Linked DNA regions of Homo sapiens: region 2 is linked to region 1. Evidence: fine-mapped expression QTL. A gene starts in region 1. The other region holds a variant in brackets. All regions are shown on one strand. Distances are from middle to middle. Region 1 holds the start of LONRF3 (LON peptidase N-terminal domain and ring finger 3). Region 2 has its middle 21 kb from the start of LONRF3.

What was found.
Region 2: its variant is fine-mapped to the expression of LONRF3 in nasal epithelium (TOPMed, PIP 0.92).

Annotation. Positions count from the first base shown.
Region 1 is chrX:118,971,986-118,977,358 of GRCh38, forward strand. It overlaps LONRF3 (LON peptidase N-terminal domain and ring finger 3), which reads left to right and starts at 2,633. Exons shown (of 11, transcript NM_001031855.3): 1 at 2,633-3,612. The coding sequence starts at 2,796.
Region 2 is chrX:118,950,628-118,956,000 of GRCh38, forward strand. No RefSeq gene overlaps it. Among named protein-coding and RNA genes, the nearest start is that of LONRF3, 21 kb to the right of the region's middle. The variant C/T (reference allele first, on the strand shown) is at 2,944.

The sequences.
Region 1 (5,373 bases):
AATTTTGGGTAACAGACATATATATATATATTTTAGATATGTCAAAGGGGTAAAGCTCTTGAATTAAGATGGTTTCATCATTATCTATCTCATGAATCTCTACCTTCCCCAACGACTGTCCTTCCTCACAGATGCCTGAAGGGGCAGGCAGATAATTAGTGCTGGGGACCTCATTTGATAGTAGGGGAAACTGAGAGGTGAAAAGAGCTCCCTTCAGTTAGATAGCAACTCACCAGGAACTCCAGTTTCTCCCCTACTGCTTGGTATGGCCACCTCCTCCACCTCTTAGCCAGTCCTCCGACTTCTACATCTTAAAAATCTAGCTCAGGGGCCAGGCGCGGTGGCTCACACCTGTAATTCCAGCACTTTGGGAGGCTGAGGCGGGCGGATCACCTGAGGTCAGGAGTTCGAGACCAGCCTGACCAACATGGAGAAACCCCGTCTCTACTAAAAATACAAAAAAATTAGCCAGCTGTGGTGGCACGTGCCTGTAATCCCAGCTACTTGGGAGGCTGAGGCAGGAGAATCACTTGAACCTGGGAGGCGGAGGTTGTGGTGAGCTGAGATCGTTCCATTGCACTCCAGCCTGGGCAACAATAGCCAAACTCCATCTCAAAAAAAAAAAAAAAATCTAGCTCAGGTCTGACCCCGACTAAATGGACAATCTTCCATTGATTTCCCATCCCCTCAACCCCGGTTCAAGCCACCATCCACAGCATTTGGACTAGTCATTTGTACTTAAGTAACTGAGTTAGTATCATGAAATTTGGTCTTAGGATCAAAGCCACTCAAGGTTAGAGCTGGAGGGAACCTTGGAGATTAAGAGAAACTAAGGTTTGGAGAACCTACCTAAGGTTTCATAGCAAATATGTGACAAATCCAAGGCTTCAAGCCAAGTTTTCCAATGTGTCCCTCGTGCTTTCCTGACTACATCTGGAGTTTCTCTATTTCTTCTTCTCCTTCTCCTTCTTCTTCATTTTTTTTTTTTTTCGTGTGTGTGTCTTTTTTCCCCTATGTGATGCTTCCTTTCTGCCCTGTGACCCTCTCCCTCTGTCCTGTCTTATTAGAAAGAGGCTCTAGAGCTGGCTGCATAGTACCTGTTCTCTGGGACCTTGGTGTTGATCTAAGACTGGTTTAACTACCTAAAGAGAAGCAGAGACCCGAGGGGGCCTGCCATAACCCAACTCTGAAACATGACTTAATCCCAAGTAAGATCAGCTCTAACATTTGTTCAGAAGCAAAAATGATGGATTCTAAAGTTTGACTTCCCCAAGGTCATCTGGCTAAGAGGTGGCTGCAGCAGGGGGCAACAATAGGTCTTCAGGCCCCTGGGGCGGCAACCTGGCACTGCCCAAGAGCCCGCAGGCTCTGAAGGCCAACTGAGCCAGCGGCAAGCCTAGTCCCTGCCTCCCTGCTTGGAGCAGTGCGACTATACCGTTTTCTGTCTGCTCATTTGTGAGCTTGGTTCCCGTCCTAAATGTGGGGGTTCAAGGCAGACAAAGAGTGTGCAGTTGGCCACCCCGCTCGCCTTCAGGAAGTGTGTAGGACACCGTCGAGGCCCCCTAGCCATTGTAAACCAGGCGCTGAGGCTCGTGCCCAGTTGTACCCTTCCCGCGCAGCGCTCAGGAGCGACAAACCTGGAGGCTATTCGGTCTGCCACTGGGCTGTGCCGGGATTCGCGGACTTTCTCCTGAATAGCGCTCTCAGCTCGCGTCTTCCCCCTGCCACTCTCCCACGCCCCCAGAGTACCCACCGACCCCAGCAGGCCGGGTACATCCCTGCCGCGCCCATCCGGCCAGTGGCTCCAGGGGCCGGCCTGGTGTGTCTCCAGCTGGGCGCCTACCGCCTGCCCCAGCGCTAGTTCTGGCGTTGGGGGTAGAGAGGTAAAGAGGGGAGTTAGCGGGGCATCTCCCTCCCAGGGCTGAGCCGGCAAGCGCATCTTCTCCGCGAGTTCCTCACTGTCCAGCGAGCGCTGCCCAACTTCTGCGCCGGTGGGACCCGCTGCTCTGAGTCACTCTTGGCACAGAACACCAAGCACCCTCAGAAACCGAATTCACCACCTTTGGGAGGCTCCTGGGAGAAGGCAAGGAACCCAGGCGGGGCTCCCAGGGCTCTCGGGCTGGGACTGGGTTGTGTGTGTGTGGGGGGGCTTCACGGATACCCCTCCCAACCTGCTTCCTTTCCCTGACAGCAGCCATCTCCCCCAAGAGGGAGAGTCTTAGGCGTCCCGGAAGACCCTGCGGACTGTGCACCTCGAGGTACCAGCCTCTCCTGGGAGGAGTGGGGGGCCGCTGGTCAGCGGCTGGCAGAGGGGACCTGTTTGCTGGCCCGTTTGGAGGTGGGATGGAGTGGGGTTTGGAGACTGAGAAGCCCAAGAGAAGACACTGAGTTTCTCCCCACCCCACAACCCCACTTCCGAAAAAGAACCAGGTGGTGAGGAGGAATAAGGCGAAGTGTAAACACAAACAACCTCAAAAAGAAGCCAAGAAAAGCGAAGCCCAAAGAAGCAAGAGCAACACTGTTACAAAACTGTCTGGTTTTGTAACAATTTCCCCGCCGCCGGCCAATGAACAGCGTGGCGGCACGTCACGTGGTACCGTTTTATATAACACTTTGCTGAGACAAGACAGTTATTAGGCGGCGCGGGGCGGCCGGCATGGAGCTCCCGGAGGCGCGGCAGGGTCAGGAGCTCGGTGGCATGGCGGCGGTGGCTGCCCCGATTTCCTCCAGCTGCCACTCCTTGCTTCGTGTCCCCGGTCCCTAGACGCCTCGTCTCCTCCCGTGTCCCTCTTCCCATGGAGTCAGTACGGATCGAACAGATGCTGAGCTTGCCCGCTGAGGTCAGCAGCGACAACTTGGAGTCGGCGGAGCGAGGGGCATCAGCGGCCCAAGTAGACATGGGCCCCCACCCAAAGGTGGCTGCAGAGGGCCCCGCACCTCTACCGACGCGGGAGCCAGAGCAAGAGCAGTCTCCGGGGACCTCAACGCCGGAGAGCAAAGTCCTGCTCACGCAGGCAGACGCCTTGGCGTCCCGGGGGCGAATCCGTGAAGCCCTCGAGGTGTATAGACAGCTCTCCGAGCGGCAGCAGCTGGTGGCTGAGCAGCTGGAGCAGCTGGTGCGCTGCCTGGCGGAGAAAGTCCCGCAAGGCGAGGCGCTGGCGCCGGCGCCCCCGGACGAGGGTAGCACTGCAAGCGGCACCGTGGCGGCGGAAGAGACGGGGGCCGCCGCGGCTGCGGCGGCCACCGAGGTGTGGGACGGCTTTAAGTGCCGGAAATGTCATGGGTTTCTATCAGACCCCGTGTCCTTGTCGTGTGGCCACACCTTTTGTAAACTGTGCCTGGAACGTGGGCGGGCCGCCGACCGGCGCTGTGCGCTGTGCGGGGTCAAGCTCTCCGCCTTGATGGTGGCCACTGGGCGGGCGCGTGGAGCCCGGCGGGCTGGGCAGCAGCCGCCGCCGCCGCTGCGAGTCAACGTGGTGCTCAGCGGCCTCCTCGGCAAGTTGTTTCCAGGCCCAGCGCGAGCGTCGCAACTCCGGCACGAGGGCAACCGACTGTACCGCGAGCGCCAGGTGGAGGCGGCACTGCTCAAGTACAACGAGGCAGTTAAGTTGGGTGAGTCCAACGCGCTGCCGGGCCGGGGCTGGGGCTCGGTGGCTACATGAGGGAGCGGGAGAACAAACCCCGCAGCGAGAAGGGATTTGGACCAGGGCAGAAGAGGGGGCGGGGGACCCATGGACTGTGGCGGGGTGGGGGAGGGGTGATTCTGGGGCTGGGTCTCTGAGTTTGTTCTGTTTTCACTGCTTATCTGTGTTTCACTGTGTTTGTGTTGATCTCGGTTGCTTTTTGTCTTTTCCTGCTACTTCTGTTAGCTTTTGTGTTCCTGTCTCTCAGTCCCCGTTCCTGTCTGTGTCTCCTTGCTTCTGGTTCTTTTTCTCCGTCTCTTCGTATCTTTGTCACTGTTTCTTTCTTTTTCGGTGTCACTGTCTCTGTTCCTCTGACTCTCCTTCTCCCGCTGCACTCCTGGTCTCCTCTTACACCTGCTCGCACCTTCCCAGCGAGGAGAGGAACTTCGCGCGCTCCTCGCACTTGCGCCCGGTCCTCTGGGCTGTAGCCAGCAGGAGATGTCCGGTCGGCGCCTGCGTCCGCCGCTCGCGCCGCCGGGTGTTGCCCCTTCCGGGGCCGCGGCTCCCTGTGGGGTGGGTCCGGCATGGAATTAGGTCAGGAGAGCACTGGTTGCATAAGGGCCGCGAGCGGCCCGGGTCGGGCGCCCCTCCCCCGCGCGAGCGGGCGGGATTGTGTAACCGCTGAGGTAACTGAAGTGGGCCACCACGCTCGCTTCGGAAACCATCCCACGAGCATGTGCGGGGGGAGGGGGAGCGCTTGCGCCCCGCTGCCCTGTGACTCATTGTCACCGCTTCCTATCACACGATCCTCGGCTGAAATAGATGCCCCCCCTTGCCCGCCCCGCCAACCCGTAGCCTGTGCCCTCGCCTCCAACCCCTTTAACCTGGCCAGCCCGGCGGGAGGCCGGCGCGGCAACTGCTTGGGGATCCCTGGGGACCGTGGGCTGGCTACGAATGGGTCACGCCTCTGTCCCGCTTTTCAGTGCCGCCTGGGAGGGTTGGGTGGGCTTTGCAGCTTCAAGGGTAACGTGGGCAGTCCCCCATCTCCAGCTAGACTAGGGCACCCGAATTTCCCCAGGGAGCCGCTCTCTGACCCACCACGCCTGGACCCAGGAAGTGGCTGCTGAGCCGCCAGCCGGTGTTGCCCAGCTCTGGCAGTTTGCCAGGAGCTCGGCCGTGGGGCGCGGTGTCTGGCGAAGCATGCCGGGGAGGAGGCAGCAGGGCTGGGCAGGCAGGGCCCTGGGATCCGAGGGTGTCCTGGACCTGACTCTGTGGAGTGGAGGAGGGGTGTGGGCCGGAGTCTCCACGTGTTTAATCTCCACTCAAGCTTGCAACAGGTAATGGGGGGAGGAGGAGGAGGAATGAGGACTGAAGGGGCAAGGCTGGCAGCCGGAGAAGGGGACCCTTCTAGCTCCTGTCTGTGCACAAGCAAGGCAGACTGTGAGCTGCCACCAGGCTGGAGTGTGCTGCAGAAGAAAAAAGACAGAAAAGACTAAACAATTTGCTAATGTCTTAAGAGCAAGTAATGGGCACGCAAGCAAGCCCTGAGCACACCCCTGGGGAAAAAAAAAACATCAAAGCCTGTTGCCACAGAGGAAGCTAGATCCCAGATCTTGGGGAAGAGCAGGGCAATATGAATGAGGCAGGTGGAGGTCACTTAACTCTAGATCTCTAAGGCAGATTCCATACCTTTTAGCCATCCCCCAGGGGCCAGGAAAGCCCCTTCCTGCCCTCACCCTTCTCCTCTGTT
Region 2 (5,373 bases), 21 kb before region 1:
TAATCTAGAAGGGCTTGCCACTTTACCAAAATAACTTACAGCTTTACTGTGGATTAAAATTGAATCAAAATTTAAGAAGAGAATTATTTAATAATGACATAATCTACATTTGGGAAGTATATTGTTTCTTTCATTACTGTGTCATTTATTTTACTGTGCAGAAAATATTTTTCCTTTTTTTTTTGAGACGGAGTCTCGCTCTGTCACCCAGGCTGGAGTGCAGTGGTGCGATCTCGGTTCACTGCAAGCTCTGCCTCCCGGGTTCACGCCATTCTCCTGCCTCAGCCTCCCGAGTAGCTGGGACTACAGGTGCCTGCCACCACGCCAGGCTAATTTTTTGTATTTTTAGTAGAGACAGGGTTTCACCATGTTAGCCAGGATGGTCTCCATCTCCTGATGTGATGGAGATGCAGATGTGATCTGCTCGCCTCGGCCTCCCAAAGTGCTGGGATTACAGGCGTGAGCCACCGCACCTGGCCCAGAAAATATTTTTCAATTAAAATATTGGTTTCCTTTTTTTAACTAGAGTTTTTCTCTCTCAGAAGTAGTTATGAAGATGACAATATATATTGCAATCAGCTATTTTGTATGATTCATGAAGAAACACTTCAAAAATAACTTTGTAATAAAGACAGAAAACTGTTTCTTCACGATTGTGATTCATCATAATTATTTTTGAACATTTGGTAAATCTTATTTCTGTGGACTTTTTTTTCTTGAGACTTGGGTCTCACTCTGTTGCCAAGGCTGGAGTGCAGTAGTGCAATCATGGTTCACTACAGCCTTGACCTCCTGGGCTCAAGGGATTCTCCTGCCTCAGCCTCCTGAGTAGCTTGGACCACAGACTTGTACCACCATGCCTGGCTATTTTTTAATTTTTTTGTAGAGATGGGGTCTCGCTATGTTGCCCAGGCTGGTCTCCAACTCTTGGCTTTAAGCCATCCTCCCACTTCAGCCTCCCAAAGTACTGGAATTACAGGCATGAGCCACTGCACCAGACTGTGAACTTTTAAGAACTTTAAAACCCTTTCAGGGCTTATTTCAGGCCCTCCTTTATGAATTCTGCAAAGGCTTCACTTGGTGAAGAAAATGGACTTGAAGTACTAAGTGTAGTATGAAACAATGTGGTTACATATATGTTCCTGCACACTTTTCAGTTTCTCTTCTGAGAAGTTCAAAGAAGTCAAGGGATTATTTGGGGGAATTAAAGTAATTGCAAAGAGAAATAGTGTGGGCCAGCAACCCTTCCAAAATGACATGCTGTGTTCTCTGGGCCCAAGGGGCAAGCAGGAGGTAGGGTGTTTGTTGAAAGAGTTCTCTTTCACAAGAGAAGAAGGTAAGGTTACTATATCAATTCTTTATTTTCTTTTTATGAGACTGAGTTTCACTTTTGTCGCCCAGGCTGGAGTGCAACGGAGTGATCTCAGCTCACTGCAACCTCCGCCTCCCGGGTTCAAGCAATTCTCCTGCCTCAGCCTCCCGAGTAGCTGGGATTACAGGTGCCCGCCACCACACCTGGCTAATTTTTTTTTTTGTATTTTTAGTAGAGATGGGGTTTCACCATGTTGGCCATGCTGGTCTTGAACTCCTGACCTCAGGTGATCTGCCCGCCTTGGCCTCCCAAAGTGCTGGGATTGCAGGCATGAGCCACCCTGCCCGGCCAGTTACTATATCAATTCTTAAGAAGAAATCTGTAGTGGAGCCCCAGATGTGTTTTCTTCTGAAAGAGAAACAGAATATGGCAATGGTAATTGGGGCCATGTACTATATTTGGCATTTGTTCCAGGTCTACTTAGTTAAACTGAATTTTCTGCTTAAAGTTTGGAATTACTATTTTGGAAGATGCCACTCTAAGTTGTACAGAGCAAGTACACAGCTGTCATCTTTATTTCCCCTCAACAGCTATTAACAGTTTATCCTAAAGTGATGGATTTTATTCTGCTACGTGAATCATGAGTAGTGTAATCATAAAGCGTATTAATATTGTGAGGAAACTCTGCATTCTGAGTATGTACATGATTAACACCGTTTCTGGACATGAATAATGATGCCTAGGGTTTCTGACCTCACCCAGAACTTCCTAAAGTTTCAGAAAATGAAATTTTCAGCAACTACAACTACTATAATTTCTGTTGTCCTTCTAATATCAAGACTTAAAAAAAAATCCAAGCATGCACTTTCAGTCATGATTGCTACTTTAGGGGTGCCTGGGTCCTTTTCGTGTTGAAATGCCCCACTTTTAGGCCAGACGCGGTGGCTCATGCCTGTAATCCCAACACTTTGGGAGGCCGAGGCGGGTGGATCACGAGTTGAGGAGATCGAGACCATCCTGGCTAACACGGTGAAACCCCGTCTCTACTAAAAATATATAAAAAAATTAGCCGGGCATGGTGGCAGTTGCCTGTAGTTCCAGCTACTCAGGAGGCCGAGGCAGGTGAATGCCGTGAACCCGGGAGGCAGAAGTTGCAGTGAGCTGAAATCGCGCCACTGCACTCCACCCTCAGCGACAGAGCAAGACTCCATCTCAAAAAAAAAAAAAAAAAAAGAAATGCCCCACCTAATTCTCTCTAGGCAATGCTCCCACTTCCCAATCACTATTCCTCCTCTATGGTCCCTCAGACGTAAAATATCCAAGTGTGGGTATTTGTTCCCTCAAGGCCACAACTCAATCTTTTTAAGCAAAAGAAGTTCCTCTAGAAAGTTCATGAATCATCACTTGAAAGTAAAATGTTATGCATTCGGAGTGGGGGTATTCAAAGGATTCTTTCAATTCTCGAAGAGATCAGTATCCTCCCCCCCAAAAAAATTAAGAAATATGGTACTAAGGTCTAATGCAATGAGGTTGATGTAGTTTCATTTGAAGATTATTTGTAGTTTAGCAGAGAGCTCCTGGAAAGAATGCCTTAACCTAAAGAAAGAATTCTACAATAAAGGAAAAGTAGG[C/T]TCCAGTGGTGGGGAACGTATTATTTGGGAGAGGATTTTGGAGTACTTCACCACATTGTATGGGCAACTAATTATTTTTTCTTGCTCTGTCTCTTTAATACTGATGACAAAGGGATATCTGTCTTTTATTTCGCCCTGTAGTTATGGTCCTAACATATACTAGGATATAATACATTTTAAAATGTTAACACAAGTGCCAAAATGGGGTGGGGAAGCATTAAGTCCACTTAACTTTAGCAAGCACTTACTGAGCACCTACTATGTATAAAGCACAGTGCTAGGTGATATAGGATAGAAAGGCAAATAAAATTCTATAAGGTCTGAACCTTCCAGAACCTGACAATCCCTAGGAGGGGGATAGATAGGTGATATAGGATAGAAAGACAAATAAAATTCTATAAGGTCTGAACTTTCCAGAACCTGACAATCCCTAGGAGGGGTATAGATAGACACACACACACACACACACACACACACACACACACACACACACATACACGACAGTACACACACATATATATATATATATAAATAATATTAATGTAAGACAGACTATGAGATATGCTATTGCATAATATGGGAGAAGGCATTGATGCTAACTAGAGAGCACCTAGGAAGCTTTAACTAAAAGTAGAAACAAGGCTACCAACCCTCAAATCCCTGGACCCTTCCCCTTCTCTGAACAACTATCTTCAACAGATTCAGAGATTAGGTCCACTGAACTTTAATTTTTTCTCTTTTTTCTTTATTATGAAATATTTCAGACCTGCAAATGGTATATAAAAACCATTATAAATACCCATGTGCATAAATACCCATAACTTAAGCAAGAAAATGTTACAGATATGTTCTCATTGTTCAATTGCCACCTATGAGTGAGAATATGCATTGGGAGATATACCTAATGCTAGATGATGAGTTAGTGGGTGCAGCGCACCAGCATGTCACATGTATACATATGTAACTAACCTGCACATTGTGCACATGTACCCTAAAACTTAAAGTATAATAATAAAAAAAAAGAAAGAAAATGTTACAGATATAGTTGAAGTACCCACACAACTAGAATTATTTTACTAACATCCTCTGCTTTTATTTAAAAAAAAAGTTTTTTTTTTTTTGAGACGGAGTCTTGCTCTGTCACCCAGGCTGGAGTGCAGTGGCGCGATCTCGGCTCACTGCAACCTCCATCTCCCAGGTTCAAGCAATTCTCCTGCCTCAGCCTCCCAAGTAGCTGGGATTACTGCTTGCCACCACACTCAGCTAATTTTTGTATTTTTAGTAGAGACGGGGTTTCACCATGTTGTACAGGCTGGTCTCAAACTCCTGATCTCAAGTGACCCACCTGTCTCGGCCTCCCAAAGTGCTGGGATTACAGGTGTGAGCTGCTGTGCCCCGCCATCCTCTGCTTTTACTAGCAGCTTTGAAAGATGACCCTCAATGAACCCTGTCTTCTGGTATTCATGCCCTTGTGTCATCCCCCTCCCCCGACTGTGGCTGGACTTAGCGACTTGCTTCTAATGAATAAAATATGACAAAAGTTGTGGGATGTCAGTTCTGTAATTAGGTTGCAAAAGACTTTGACTTCCATCCTGCCAGCACTCTCACTCGTTCATTCTGATGAAGCCTGCTGCCACGTTGTGAGATGCTCTATGGGGTGGCCCACATGGCAAGGAATCAAGGGAAGCCTCTAGCCAACACCTTGTGAAGAACTGAGTCCTTCGTCCAACAGCCCACAAAGAGCCAAATCCTGACAACAACCATGTGAGTGAACTTGGAAGCAGATCCTCCTGGTTAAGTCTTCAGGTAAGACTGAACCCCTGGCTGACACCTTGATTGCAGCCTTGGAAGAAACCCTGAAACAAAAGACTCAGCGAAGCCATGTCTGGATTATGTTTTGAGCTCCTGAATTTTGGGGTAATTTGTTAATTTGTTATGCAATATGAACTAATATACCTTCCAAGAAGTAACCACTGTCCTAAATGTGCTGTTTATCATTCTCATACGTGTGTGTGTGTGTGTATATATATATATATATTTGTATGATCATTCCCATGCATGTGTATATATATAAATTGATTAAATGTTTTTATTCCAGTCTGCCATGGAAGAAGCATATATAAGTTGTATTAAATGTTTTAAAAATCCATATAAGTGCCATTACAATATTTGTATCCCTCTGGAACTAGCTTTTCCCTTATTCATTTTTCTACTGCCACCACTCAATCTTTGCTCTTCCAAGAGGTCTTTCTCTCACAGCCCCTGTGACTTCTAGTCTCCTCCCCAGCCCAGCCTTTGGTGTTCTATTCAGTTTATGTGCAACAGTCCCAAGCCATTGAATTAAGCCTGGTCATACCTTAAACGAAGCTCAGCTTCTTCCCATATTGCTCTCTAAACCAAAATCTGGGCCTAGGCTCTTTAATATTACAT